Homo sapiens: one gene and its partner. The protein of the gene in region 2 purifies or fractionates together with the protein of the main gene of each other region. This does not show direct contact. Each region holds a gene or a part of one and is shown on either strand. Other genes may lie near its edges.

What was found.
Region 1: the proteins of ARID1A (region 2) and BCL7C purify together in Homo sapiens (affinity purification with mass spectrometry; 6 studies listed by BioGRID and IntAct, with this or other methods). This does not show direct contact.

The regions. Positions count from the first base shown.
Region 1 is NC_000016.10:30,891,077-30,898,603, forward strand, and holds the start of BCL7C (B-cell CLL/lymphoma 7 protein family member C), read right to left. Parts: upstream 3,002-7,527; 5' UTR 2,869-3,001; coding exon 2,777-2,868; intron 2,215-2,776; coding exon 2,136-2,214; intron 1,873-2,135; coding exon 1,764-1,872; intron 1,672-1,763; coding exon 1,510-1,671; coding exon of another isoform or gene 1,500-1,509; intron 1-1,499. Other genes in the region: CTF1 (cardiotrophin-1), read left to right, coding at 4,828-4,918. UniProt on the Homo sapiens protein: May play an anti-apoptotic role.
Region 2 is NC_000001.11:26,762,002-26,769,024, reverse strand, and holds part of ARID1A (AT-rich interactive domain-containing protein 1A), read right to left. Parts: intron 6,874-7,023; coding exon 6,706-6,873; intron 6,053-6,705; coding exon 5,740-6,052; intron 2,805-5,739; coding exon 2,659-2,804; intron 2,569-2,658; coding exon 2,459-2,568; intron 1,236-2,458; coding exon 1,026-1,235; intron 1-1,025. UniProt on the Homo sapiens protein: Involved in transcriptional activation and repression of select genes by chromatin remodeling (alteration of DNA-nucleosome topology).

The DNA.
Region 1 (7,527 bases), on a different chromosome or scaffold from region 2:
AAGAATCGCTTGAACCTGGGAGGCAGAGTTTGCAGTGAGCCAAGATCGTACCACTGCTCTCCAGCCTGGGCAACAGAGCAAGACTTCATCTCAAAAAAAAAAAAAAAAAAGGCTGGGCGTGGTGGCTCGTAATCCCAGCACTTTGGGAGGCCAAGGCGGGCAGATCACCTGAGGTCAGGCGTTTGAGACCAGCCTGGCCAACATGGCGAAACCCCAACTCTACTAAAAATACAAAACCAGCCGAGCATGGTGGTTCATGCCTATATTCCCAGCTACCCAGGAGGCTGAGGCAGGAGAATTGCCTGAACCCAGGAGGTGAAGGTTGCAGTGAGCCAAGATTGTGCCGTCGCACTCCAGCCTTGGCAAGAGCGAAACTCTCTCAAAGAAAAGAAAAAGAGAAAAGAAAAAAACCCAACCACGTAAAGTGTTTACCAGGGCACCTAGCACACAGTAAGAGCTCAATAAATACTAGCTGTTGTTATTCCTATTATTGTTAATCACCCCTATGACTATCACTATTATTTATTCACTCAACAGATATTTACTGAGCACCTACTATGTGTCCCATATTATTCTGAGGATACAGTAGTGAACAAGATCACATAGGGCCAGGCACAGTGACTCACGCCTATAATCCCAGCACCTTGGGAGGCTGAGACAGGAGGATCATTTCAGGCCACGAGTTCAAAACCAACCTTGGCAACATAGCGAGACCCTACCTCTACAAAAAATTTAAGAATTGGCTGGGCATGGTGGCACACACCTGAGTCCCAGCTATTTGGGAGGCTGGGGCCAGAGGATCCCTTGAGCCCAGGAGTTTGAGGCTGCAGTGAGCTATGATTGCACCAGAGTACTCCAGCGTGGGTGACAGAGACCTTGTCTCTAAAAAAAAGGGGGGGGAGGGCCGGGTGTGGGTGTGATGGCTCACACCCGTAATCCCAGCACTTTGGGAGGCTGAAGGTGGAGGACTGCTTGAGCAAGTGAGTTTGAGACCAGCCTGGGCAACATGGTGAAACCTTATCTCTACAAAAAATACAAAAATTAGCCAGGTGTGGTGGCATATGCCTGTGGTCCCAGCTACTTGGGAGGCTGAGGCGGGAGGATCGCTTGAGCCCAGGAAGTTCAAGGCTGCAGTGAGCTATGATCACACCACTATACTACTCCAGCCTGGGTGACAGAGCGAGACCCTTTCTCAAAAAAAAAAAAAAAAAAAAAAAAAAAAAAGGATCAATATGGGCCCAACATTCAGGAAACTGACATGAGAGTGAGGAGAAAGATAAACTAGTAAAAAATTAATTTACATGAAAATCTCAGACAGTGATATGTCTGTATAGATTCTAAGAGACCAGAGGAATGAGACTGTAGCTACAGGGAGATTCTGCAGGAGTCGGAAGGCGCCTTGAGGAGGGTGCACAAGACGGGGAGCAGGTATAGGGATGAGCTGGTAGGTTAGACTCTGGAGAAGACAGGACTTAGAGGAGAGAGCTCCTGGGAGGTACCTGGTCCTACCTCTCTCTTGGCCCAGCCGTGGGGGCTGAGCCTCCTCAGGGACCCCTTCTGGGGGTCCGGCAGGTGACACAGGGCGGCTGGGCTGGGGGGTGCCCCCAGGACTGGGCTCTGTGCCCTTTTGCAGGGAACCTTCCGAATGGAAACTCTGGTTGCTGTTCTCATCTGCGGGAGCAAGAGCCGAGATGGTTGGCCTGAGATCCCTAGTACACTCCTTCAGTCCCCACAGCCCCCCGCGTTTCAGGATCCCTACCTACCATTAAGATCCAGCAGGATGAGAGGGCCACCCCCTCGGGGACTGGCGCCCCTGCCCCGACGTTCCCGGCCACGGGATCTCTCTGCCCCGCCACCTGCCCGCCTTCGCTCCTGGGGGTTAGAGGATTAGGGTCAGAGCTCTTGGAAAGCCCCACCATACACCTAAGGAAACTGAGGCACTGAGAAGCAAAAGGGCTCAAACTCAGGGGGTGTGGAGCAGAAAAGAGGGCAAAAGGGGAGGAGCTGCTAATGATGGTTCCCGTCTGTCCTGCTGCATCTGAGGTCTCGGGGAGCTGGAGGTAGAGGTCAGCGTGGGGAGGAACTTGCCTGAGGTTGCACAGATGCAGGGCCTTGTGGGAATGGGGGTTGCTCACCTCCTCCTGGGGATCCACCACTGGCACCCACTTGAAGATACGAAGGGAAGTGTCGCCCACAGTCACCCATCGCTTCTCCCTGTGGGAGGGTGGGGGGCTGGGTCAGAGAGGCCTGAGGGGAGACCCACCCCCCTAGGAGCTGGACACATCTGGGGGTACCTGCAGAGGTTGAGGAGGCACAGGAGGATAGCAACAGTTTTGCTAATGGGGCATAGTTACATGGAGGAAGAGAGTCCTGCAAACCCCAGGGCATAGGCGGTGGGTGCCTCTAGAGAGAGGATATGATTTGGGGCCCTGGCTCTGCGGACCCCTGGGGCACACATGGGGGGCGTGGCTATGGGCCTGGCCCGGGATCAGAGCCCTGCAGATCCTGGGGCGCACCTGCAGGAGGGGTGTCAAAGCTTTAGGGGGCGGGGCACAAGAGGGGGCTCCCGCTCTGGGAGGACACGGCTGGGGATCACGCTTTGTAGACCCCCAGGAGTAGCCAGGCGAACGGGGACAGAGCCCTGTGGATCCAGGGCAAAGCTAGTGGGTGGAGATACACCGAACACCCGGGGCCCAGAGCTGGCGAGGGCAGCGTAGACGCCTTTGGTGCTGGTGGTCCCGCTGTGTCCCGTCCCTGGCCCCCGAGCAGCGCTCACCATCTCCGGACCTTCTCGATGGTCGCCATCACCTTCTTGATGTCATCCTTGGCCCGGCTCCGGGTCTCGGCCCGTACAGTCCGGCCGGCCATGCTGGCGGGGCTGGGGCCGGGGCCGAGCCCGCGGCGGGGCCGCCTCCCGTCCGGCGGGCTCAGGCTCCGCGCCAGGCCCGGGCGCCGCGCTCTCGGCCTGCCGTCCCCCCTGGAGTTGGCCGCGCCCTCTCTCGTCCCCAACGCCTCCGCAAGTCCCCGCCCCGTTTCCTGCCGCCGCGCCCCGCCCCGGCCTGTCCCCGGAGCGGCCCGGTGGCGCGGGCGGCCAGAGCCCAGGCCTGGAAGCCCGGCCGGCCCCGCCCCGACCCGGGCCCGCCCCCTTGGAGCGCCTGGACGCTCAGCGCCCCCTGCCCGCCGCCGAGAGCGGGAGTTGGGGACGGACGCGCGAGTTGGGGACGGAGAGCGGGAGTTGCGACCGGACGCGCGAGGCAGGGCCGAGGCCGTGTGTTCAGACCACGTGGGCGCGGGGTGCGCGACAGGGTCTGTGTCCTGCGCTGCGTGAGCCGCGGTGGGTGTCCGCGAAACGCTGTGTGTGGAGTGCGTGCGTGTGTCCGCCCTCGCCAGGCTGTTGGTCTACACCGCCCAACTTACTCAGTCATCCATTCATTCAACAGTCTTGTTAACTGAGTGCCAATTACGCTCCAGGCGCTGCGAATACGAGTGGGTCTCCACCACCAGAATGGCTAAAGTGAAAAAGACCGCACCGTGTGGAGGCGAGAAAGTAGAGCGACTGGACCTCTCTTGTATTTCTGGGGGAGTGTAAATTGGTAGAGACATTTTGGAAAACTGGCAGTTTTCTAATGAAGCCGAACATATGCCACCTCTGTGATCCAGCAGTTCCACTCCTAGGCTGTCAACACCCAGCAGAAATGTGTAGGTGTGAGCATCAAGAGGGTGCATGGGAATGTTCAGAGCCCTTTCATAACAGCCCCAAACTGGAAATAACCCATCAACAGAATGGAAAATGAATGATGCCCTACTCACTACCATGCACATAGACACAGCAACGGGATTGACATGCCCGGCTACACACAGCAACATAGACAAGTCGCATGATGAAATCTTGAGTGACAGAAGCCAAATGCAACAGTACATACTAGATGGTTCCAGGTGTATTACGTTCAGAACCAGACAAAACTAATTTATAGTGCACCAAAGTCAAGATAGTGATCGCCCTTAGGGTTGGGAGGGGACGAGGGGAGAGCTTCTGGGAGCTGATCCAGTTCTGTTGTGTAATCTGGTGCTGGTTCCCTGGGCATATGTATTCTGTGAAAATCCATCACATGACTTAAATAAAATGTACATTACTTAAATAAAATGAGTGTGTCTTTGTTGACTTTATTTGAGGCTGGCTTGTCAGCAGATAAGACCATGTCAAAATTTGTGCTGCTGTTGTGTGTGTGTGTGTGTTTCAAGGTGTGGCTGTTGTGTCTGTGAATTTGGGCGTGACCATGTCCAGAGGTTAAGGGTATAAGGGGTTAGGAGCATGGTTAAGACAGCATTTTTTTGAGCCAAGCTGCTTAGGTAAAATCCCAGTTGTGCCACACCTAACTGTGTTACCCTGGACAAGTCACTTCTCTCTATTCCGCATCTATAACACAGGAGTTAGTTAATGTGCATATGGCTCTTAGAACAGTGCCCAGCACATGGTAAATGCCCAATAAATATTTACAGTTAATACACATGTGATTGTGGGCCCTACCAATTGTCTGGCTCAATTCTATCTGCTGTGCCCTCTCCAGTTAAACTCTTTCTTCTTTTATTCCAGCAATTGCTCACGGCAATACACACACCCACTCACACGAACACACGCACACACATGCACGCGCACATGCACACACGCGCACACCTGCACACTCACACGCACACAAATCCACTCGCACACACGCATGCTCACACGCACACACGTCCGCATGCACGCACACACGCAGACACACGCAAGCGCACACACACACGGGCCTCCTCGTCTTCATTCACAAACCCCATTAGCTTCTGTTGTCTATGGGCTTCCTCGACAGACCGCGAGCCCCTCGCGGGGGCCAGAAACCAAGTATGGATCATCCCTATGTGCCTTCCTTTCCGTCTACACCAGGTTAATGGGGTTGACGTATGGGTGTGACTTCCTGTCCAGGTCTCTGTAGCTTGTTCTCCTGGGGGTGGGGGGCGGGGTGTGATTGTTACTAGGCCTGCTAAGAAGAGGAGAGCAGTGTATCTGTCTCCCTCCTGGTGGGTGTGACAATGAGATTGGAAGCCATCTAAGATAGGCCAGGAGATGTATGTCTGGACAAACATGCCCCAAGCCTGACGGCCCCCATCGTAGCCTCCCTCGCAAGCCGCGCCCCAGACTAGAGAGAGGGCCTGCGCATTCCTGTCCTGCCAGTCCGGCAGTTCCCTCTCCTGTCTCCTCAGCTTTACACCCAAAGCAGCCGCTGCCTCAGGTCCAAGCCTGAGCCCGCGGCAGAACATTGGGCTGCCTCCCAGGCCCTGACACCCCCAGCCCCGAGGTCCTGTCCACCCGGCAGACAACTTGCCTTCCCCCTCGGGCCCCTTCCCCCACTAGGCCCCACGGACGAGGAGCTGAGCTCAGGGCCAAGGAATCCTGTCTCAAAAGGGGGGGTAGGATGAAATGTTTGGGGTCTGGGCTCTGATTGGCTGCGCCCGGGCCACGCCCCCAGCCCTTTCCCCTTTCTCCCCCCTCGAAAGGGGGGCGTGAAGGGAGCCGGGATCAGCCAGGGGCCAGCATGAGCCGGAGGGAGGGAAGTCTGGGTAAGGGGCTGAGGGACCGGACGCCGGGTCGCTGAGGGGCGCAGGAGTCAGAGGGATTGGGAGCTGGGGGTCTGGGTTTCCGCCACCCCCGGGTCCGGGAGGGGAGCGGCCTTGGCGGGGAAGGGCAGGGCTCCGGTGTCAGGTAACGAGTGAGCGGGTGAGTTGTGAGAAACAGCAGGCGCTAGGGTTTAGAGGAGGCCTGGGGCTGAGGTTTCAGGGACCTGGGCTCAGGGCTTAGATCACCGGTTCGAGTACACCCAGGGGGAGGACTGGGGTCGGGGCTGGGGCAGGACCCCTGCGTCCACTGAGTCTCGGGAAAGAATCAGAGCTGGGGGGCTGAAGGAAGGGGTAGAGTAAGGGAAGGCAGTCTTGGAGTCACAGGAAGTAGTGAGTGACAACAGGAGACGAAAGTCTGGGCTGCTGAGGATCGCGACTGGTGCTGGGAAACTTCGGGGGTGGGGCGGGGGCGGGGCACCGGGTCAGGACTACATTCCCCAGCACGCATCGGGCGCGCGCTGTGCGTTTCGGGAAATGGAGTCCCTCCCGGGGCGCCAGACACTGGCTCTTGCGGACCTTGATTCGCTGACTAGCCAGGCCAGCGCCTTGCATGGATGGGGCATCAGGGAGAGAAATGGAAATGGAAGTCAGTCTCCCTATCTGTAAAATGGGCCTTCAAGGCACATTTTGATATGAAGTTCTGTACTTCGATGATGTTGAAGTCCACTAGCAGTCACTGAGGTAGAAATATGTAAGCCCTGTCTTCAAAGGGCTCTCAGGCTAAGGCAGATACACACAGAAAAGCCGTTAAAAGAGCTACCCTGGAACTCATGCAAATGGCCTTAAGTCAAAGGAAGGAGTTCGTTTATAAAGGAGAAGTGATTCTGGAGGCTTCACTGAGGAGGCAGTACAGTCATGCACTGCATAACAACATTTGGTCAACAGGTGGACCGCACAGACAATGGAGGTCCCATAAGATTCTATGCATTTTTAGCCTGGGCAACATGGCGAAACCCTGTCTCTACAAAAAAATACAAAAATTAACCGGGCATGGTGGCGCATGCCTGTAGTCCCAGCTACACAGGAGACCCAGGCGGGAGGATCGCTTGAGCCCAGGAGGTCGAGGCTGCAGTGAGCCAAGATTGCACCACTGCACCCCATCCTGGGCGAAAGAGCAAGACTCCGTCTCTCTCTCTCTCTCTCTTTCTCTTTTGGGATGGAGTCTTTCTCTGTTGCCAGGCTGGAGTGCAGTGGCCTTGGCTCACTGCAACCTCTGCCTCCTGGGTTCAAGCAATTCTCCTGCCTCAGCCTCCCAAGTAGCTGGGACTACAGGCGTGTGCCACCAAGTCCAGCTAATTTTTTTTTTTTTGTATTTTTAGTAGAGATGAGGTTTCATCATGTTGGCTAGGATGGTATTGATCTCTTGACCTCGTGATCCACCTGCCTCAGCCCTCCAAAGTGCTAGGATTACAGGCGTGAGCCACTGCGCCTGGACAATTTTTTTTTTTTTTTTTGAGACGAAGTCTCGGTCTGTCACCCAGGCTGGAGTGCAGTGACCTGATCTCAGCTCAATGCAACCTCCTCCTCCCAGGTTCAAGCGATTCTCATGCCTCAGGCCCCCTGGTAGCTGGGATTACAGGCACCCACCATCATGCCTGACTAATTTTTGTATTTTTAGTAGAGACAGGGTTTCACCAGATGGTCCCGAACTCCTGACTTCAAGTGATCCGCCCGCCTCATCCTCCCAAAGTGTGGGATTAAAGGCGTGAACCACTGAGCCCAATGCCTGGCTAATTTTTGTATTTTTAGTAGAAACGGGGTTTCACCATGTTGGCCAGGCTGGTCTCAAACTCCTGACCTCAAGTGATCTGCCCATCTCGGGCTCCCAAAGTGCTGGGATTACAGGCGTGAGCCACCACGCCTAACCGATATATATTA
Region 2 (7,023 bases):
TGGGGGAGGGGAATAAAGCCTGAAGGGAGAAGGAATTCATAACTGACTGTTGGCTGGCTTCATTCCAACCACTTTCTTTTCTGCTGGTGACAGCTGTTTTCCTCTTCTGATTTAGAAGGTTTGGAATAAATCCCTCCCTGCCACACCTCCCCGAGCTCAGCCACAAACTGATCCAACAGCAGGCTTCTGGTCTGGTGACTACAGAACATACACAGGAGGGAAGTCTGCAAGGCACAGTCTGCTGTCTGTCTGTGCTGCCTCACCTGTTTGCTTCCTGGGCTGAGTCTACAAAATTGTAAGGTATCAGAGTAGGCACAAGCTCTGGGTGGTGTCCAATTCAGGTTTTCATTTAAGTTTCCCATACAGAATAACTAAACACATAATTTCCTACTACTTCTTCCTTTATTATAAACTATTTCTACTAAGCAGTTCCTGAAATCCTATCTCTACTGGGAAGCTTCCAGGAATGGGAAGATCTACTTCTACTCTGGCTGCCTCTGTACCATCTTGCAGGCCGATTTATGTGGCAGAAACCTTGCTGAAAGCCAAAGTTATTTCTAACTTTTGACAGTCTAGTGGGTTATATACTGTTACATACTGTTTGTATTTTACAAATAATGAAATTAAGGTTCAGAGTGGTTACACACCTTAAGGTCATATATGTTATAAGTGGCCAAGAAGGGATTCAAAACCAGGTCCATCTCTCCAAATCCTGTCTTTGCTACTATGCCAAATTGCCTCCCATGGAATCAGAATGCCCACAGACTTTCCCTAGCTTTACACCTCAGTGGGACCATAGATACACGGTAAACTTACTGCTAATACCTCATACTACCAGGGAGGTCTCTGCTTCCTGCCTTATCTTCTGGGAAACCTGTGCTCCCCGGTCTATCAATATTAGACTCAGAAAGCGGGAGAGGGGATGATGTCCCTGTGGGATGCATGGTACCACATGAAGCCAGTGAGTACCTAGAAAGGGGTTTGTGGAAACCACAGGGGCAGTCAAGTGTCAGGCGCCCACTCACCTGAGTCAATCCACCAATCTCCTTCACAGACACATAGAGGCGATAGAGGTCCAGAGGTTTCCTACCCACAGCAGGCAGATTTGTCATGCCCATGGCCTTCTCCTCAGTGAAGGCCAGATAACGGTCCACCCACATCTTCCTCTCAGGCTCACCACCCAGCTCATACAACTTGGTGATCTTCTCATTGGTTGTAGTAGAAGAACTGGATTTCTGGAAGGTTCAGGTCAAAATTCATAGGAATGGGTCAGATTCAAAGCCTGTGCTAAGGGTCTCAGAAGTCTCTTGACTGGAGCAGTGTTAAAGCTTCTTACTCTGGGGTGGTTACTAACACCTGTCCTACCTTCATAAGGTTGAAGGGCCAAAAGAGAACCAAATTTTTTTTTCCTATAAAGGAAGGAAGCTAACACTAAATATATGTTATGTACTGGGTGCTGTGCTAGATGCCTTTATATATTAGGTATTATAAAATTATCCCCATTTGTAAAGATAAGGAAGCAGGCACCAGGAGGCAAAGCCTAAGATCTCACAGCTTTTAAGTGGCAGGCTGAGTATCAAATCCTTGTCCACCTGACATCAAAGCCACTACTGCTCCCACACTACTACCCAGGAGCCTGAACATACTTAGGTACTATGTTTTAGAGAAATCGAAAAACTCACAACATGATCTTGAGGCAATGGGATGGACTAAAATGAAAAGAAACTCTTTGCCTCTTCTAAACAAAGGAAAGGTTTCCCACCTGGTTGAAGGGCTTTGGATATTATCCTGTACAAGACAGGAACGTGGTCAAAAGGGCTGGGAGCCAGAGGTGAAGACTCACAGGAATTAACAGCTATGATTTTTATTTTCCCTATGTATACAGATAGGGAAAGTGAGGTATGGCCAAGGACAGAAATATTACAAATGACCCAAATGCTGAGTAGGACCCTTTACTACCGCACAGCCTAACAGTACACCCAGGACCAACCTAAGGGAAGCCAAGGACTCAAGCCTCATCTGCCTTATCTCCTTCTTTACAGAACACAGGGTACCATTCCTGCTGCTATGAGTAAGGTTCAGGAAGAGAAGAGCAACTAGTTGCCCATGGCACACCCCATCTATCAATGCTTGAGTATAGGAGGCACGGTTTCACAGAGGGCACCAGCCAAACAGTACAGAGAGTTTGATGCTGCAGTGTCTGGCATTTCCCCCATAACAAACAGCTGTGAGAATATTATGTTATTTACCAGGATCCCTTAGACCAACCCAGACCCAACTCACTGAGCTATTATTCTGGGACCTTTCATGATAAGAGGAGGCAACAGCAGCTTTTTCAGAGACTATCTAGTCCGGTGTCATAAAAGGCTGGGATCTTGTCACTCTCTTTTCTTTTTCCTTCCTATCACTGAAAAAGATAGGACACAAAGTTGAAAGGAGTCAAGACAAAAATCACTACCTTGGATTTGGATTCTGTCTTGGGTGTCCCATCTGCCTTGTTGTTCATTTTGGTGGCTGGAGTTAACTTTACATCCCCAAGGCCCATCATCTCTGGGCTGGCTGCCATCCCTGTAAAAGAGAAAAAAATTCTCAAGTCCAGTAAGTTTAGCTGTGATGTGACTCTTGAAGAAATCCCTAGTGAGAATGACTAGCACTTACCTGCAGAATTGTTGGCCATGGTTCCACCCATGGAATATGGGGGTCCCTGAGGGTTGATCATGCCAGCCATACTATTAATCCCTTGTCCATAAGGAGGTCCAGTTCCCATCATGCCCCCTTGATTCATATTGGGGTAGCCTGGCGGCCTAAGGAAGAAGATGGAAAGTGAGAGAGACAAAGGTTAGACTCTGAGCTTTTAGATTTGAACTGGAGCCAAATAGTGCTGTGTGATCATCTAGTAAGGATTAAAAGGAAAACATTTATGGGTCCCCAAAACTAGAACTATGCAACATCCAGATATTATTTTTCTTTAATTTATTTTCTTGAGACAGGGTATTGCTCTGGCACCCTGGCTGGAATGCAGTGGTGTGATCATAGCTTACTGCAGCCTTAATCTCCTGAGCTCAAACAATCTGCCTTCCTCAGCCTCCTGAGTGCCTAAGACTATGAGGCATGCACCACCATGTCCAGCTAACACCCAGATTTTCTTTTTTTTTTTTTTGAGACAGAGTTTCACTCTTGTTGCCCAGGCTGGAGTGCAATGGTGAAATCTCGGCTCACTGCAATCTCAGCCTCCCAGGTTCAAGCAATTCTCCTTTCTCAGCCTCCCAAATAGCTGGGATTACAGGCATGTACCACCACACCCGGCTAATGTTGTATTTTTAGTAGAGATGGGCTTTCTCCATGTTGGTCAGGCTGGTCTCGAACTCCTGACTTCAGGTGATCCACCTGCCTCGGCTTCCCAAAATGCTGGAATTACAGGCATGAGCCACCGAGCCCGGCCAACACCCAGATTTTCTTATCTTCTACCTCCCACGAAAGATACTAAGAGAGTTCAAGCTCTAGATAGCAAACAATAGTTCAATTTTTTTTTTTTTTGAGATGGAGTCTCGCTCTGTTGCCCAGGCTGGAGAGCAGTGGCGCGATCTCAGCTCACTGCAAGCTCCGCCTCCCGGGTTCACGCCATTCTCCTGCCTCAGCCTCCCAAGTAGCTGGGACTACAGGCACCTGCCACCACGCCCGGCTAATTTTTTGTACTTTATTAGTAGAGACAGGGTTTCACCGTATTAGCCAGGATGGTCTCGATGTCCTGACCTCGTTATCCGCCTGCCTCAGCCTCCCAAAATGCTGGGATTACAGGGGTGAGCCACCATGCCCGGCCAATTTTTTTTTGAGATGGAGTTTCACTCATCTCCCAGGCTGGAGTGCAATGGCATGATCTCGGCTCACTGCAACCTCCGCCTCCCAGGTTCAAGCCATTCTGCCTCAGCCTCGTGAGTAGCTGGGATTACAGGCGCCCACCACCATGCCTGGCTATTTTTTTGTATTTTTAGTAGAGATGGGGTTTTGCCATGCTGGGCAGGCTGGTCTTGAACTTCTGACCTCAGGTGATCCACCTGCCTCAGCCTCCCAAAGTGCTAGGATTACAGGAGTGAGCCACCGCACCCGGCCACAATAGCTCAATTTCAAAGGGTGTAATTCTTTGAAGCAGAGCCCTGCTGTGTCCTTTAAGTACTGCCTTCCTCAAAGCCACCTCCAAAGTCAAGTTGTATTTCCATTTAAGGGCCCTGTCTGTGGCAAAAGGCATAGATGAAATGCTGAACTGTACCACTTTTTGTCATGCTAAATCCCAACCAGACTGGAACCCTCAGCATAGCACCCAGAGGTGGCTTTGCATTATTTCTTGAGGGGCCCAATGCAAACTTTGCACTTCCATCATTCTGAAGTTCTACCAAATCCACCTCTTTATAGTCAATCGCCCTATTCTACCTTGGTTCATCAACAACAACTCAGTAAGATTTAGTGGCTAAAGAAGTTGTTAAACCTAATCACATGAGCCTTCTGTACTCTAGCACCAGAGTCAACACGTAGGACCACATAAAACAGTAGGAGAAATGGCAAACCACAAGCTTACCATTTGCTATTTCTAACACCAAAGATCCAAGACATATGTATCATTAAGAATCCTTTTGGAAACCAAAAAGTTGACTGATAGAAGTTAAACCACCTACTCTGAACACTTATTTTGCACATCAAAATAAGCAGTCTTTAGCCCTGGCAACACACTGAGACCCCATCTCTATTTAAAAAAAAAAAAAAAAGGCCGGGCATGGTGGATCATGCCTGTAATCCCAGCACTTTCAGAGGCCAAGGCAGGCAGCTCACTGGAGGTCAGGATTTTGAGACCAGCCTGGCTAACATGGTGAAACCCAGTCTAAAAATATAAAAATTAGCAGGGCATGGTGGCGGGTGCCTGTAACACCAGCTACTTGGGAGGCTGAGGCAGGACAATTGGTTGAACCTGGAAAGCAGAGGTGGCAGTGAGCTGAAAGTGTGCCATTACACTCCAGCTTGGGCAACAGAGTGAGACAGTCTCTAAATAAATAAATAAATATAAAAAATAAAAAAAATTAGCTGGGTGTGGTGGTGTGTGCCTGTAGTCCCAACTACTCAGAAGGCTGAGGTGGGAGGATCACTTGAGCCTGGGAGGTCGAGGCTGCAGTGAACTGTGGTCATGCCACTGCAATTCAGCCTGGGGAACAGAGCAGGGTCCTGTCTCAAAAGACCCCAAAATAAAACACCCCACAAAACCCCTTTTTTCGACAGTCTCGCTCTGTCGCCCAGGCTGGAGTGTGGTGGCGCAGTCTTGGCTCACTGCAACCTCTTCCTCCTGGGTTCAAGTGATTCTCCTGCCTCAGCCTCCCGATAGCCGGGATTACAGGCGTGCGCCACCACACCCAGCTAATTTTTGTATTTTTAGTACAGACGGGGTTTCACCATGTTGATCAGGCTGGTCTTGATTTCTGACCTCATGATCTGCCCGCCTTGGCCTCCCAAAGTGCTAGGATTACAGGCATGAGCCGCCACGCCCGGCCAAAAACCTGTCTTTTATAAAGCTCATTACATATGATGTTTAGTCACGTGAAATTTCAGACCCATCTAAGGTATGTAAGAATTAACACTTCATACACACACACCCATTTTCCCCCCCTGGTTTAGGTCCAGAAGCATCTCAATAATCTGAGTGGGTCTATAATACATTTTCTTGCACTGACACCCTCTCTGCTTCCCAGGCCTTACCTGTTTTGGATAGAGTTGGCAGCAACATGCATGGCGACAGCAGTTTCTTGGGTTTTCCGGTTCATGCCCCCTGGTGGGGGACACATCCCTGACCCAACCTGAGGTGGCATATTGGCCATGTTAGGGCCATAAGGCCGGTTGCCCATGGAGGCGTGACTCATCCTCCCTGGAGGGAGTGTGCCATAAGGTGGGATGCCAGGCTGTCCATGCATTTGACCTCCGGCACCCATGGGGTTTATGCCTCCAGCCATGCCTGCACTGGGGTAGTTGGCATTGGGCAAGGCATTATAGTTTGGCTGCCTGGGGTAGCCACCTGGGAGGGGAGGAAGACAAGACTTGGTTAGTCACTCACTAGCAACTCACTAATATCTCTCAACTCTAGAACACCAAACAATGTCATTCAATATTTTGGTTAGGAAAGAGATCAACTTCATGGTAGCCTTTATCGCCATGAGAAAAAGGGGGGGATTCCAGAAGCATGTAAAGGCAGGTCAGAGCAAGGCTGGCTTTGCTGCCACACAGGCATTTCAACTTCCAGAAGAAGATAACTTCCTTTCTATTTCCATGCTCTGTGTAAGATTCTCAACTTTTGATCAGCCTAGGGCTGCAATTTTGAGCAAAGATCTATTCCATTATGACTTATTCACTAAAAATAATTAATAAAAAAATAATAACCAAGAGCTACCATGTATAAATTGTCTGTGCTCAATGGTGGAGTAAACACCTAATCTCCATTTTTATAAATGAAACAGAGGCTCAGTGAAATTGAAAGACTTTCTCATGGTGACAGAATAAGTGGAGACAAATGGAATCTTGCCTTGCCCTACTTCAGGGCCTGGGCTGGGTGGATTAAAGGCAAAGGACAGCCCTTCTCTCACAAGGTTACAAGCTAGATGGCAACATATCAGACAAGGAACTGTTTTCTCCTCTCACCCGTATCTACTCCTAACTGGGTAGTATACTGACCTTGTGGGCCATACTGACCCCCCTGGGGACCATAGCTCCCCATGGAGTTCTGCTGGTAGGAGCCCATGCCTGTGTGTATCTGTCCTCCGGAAGGCTGACGCGGAGATAAGGCTGAGCCGGGCTGGGGGGAACTGTACTGGGGCATCTGGGGGTTCCTCTGCATATAACCTATTTGTGGGTAGCATCCATATAGTTATTAGCTTTATACAATGCGAACAAATGCTCTCCATCCTTATCCTGGGACTTTACCATCTACATTTTCTTTAGCAGCCACTTGCATGGAGTCTCTATCTGATTTTCTATATAGTGGTGTGTCAT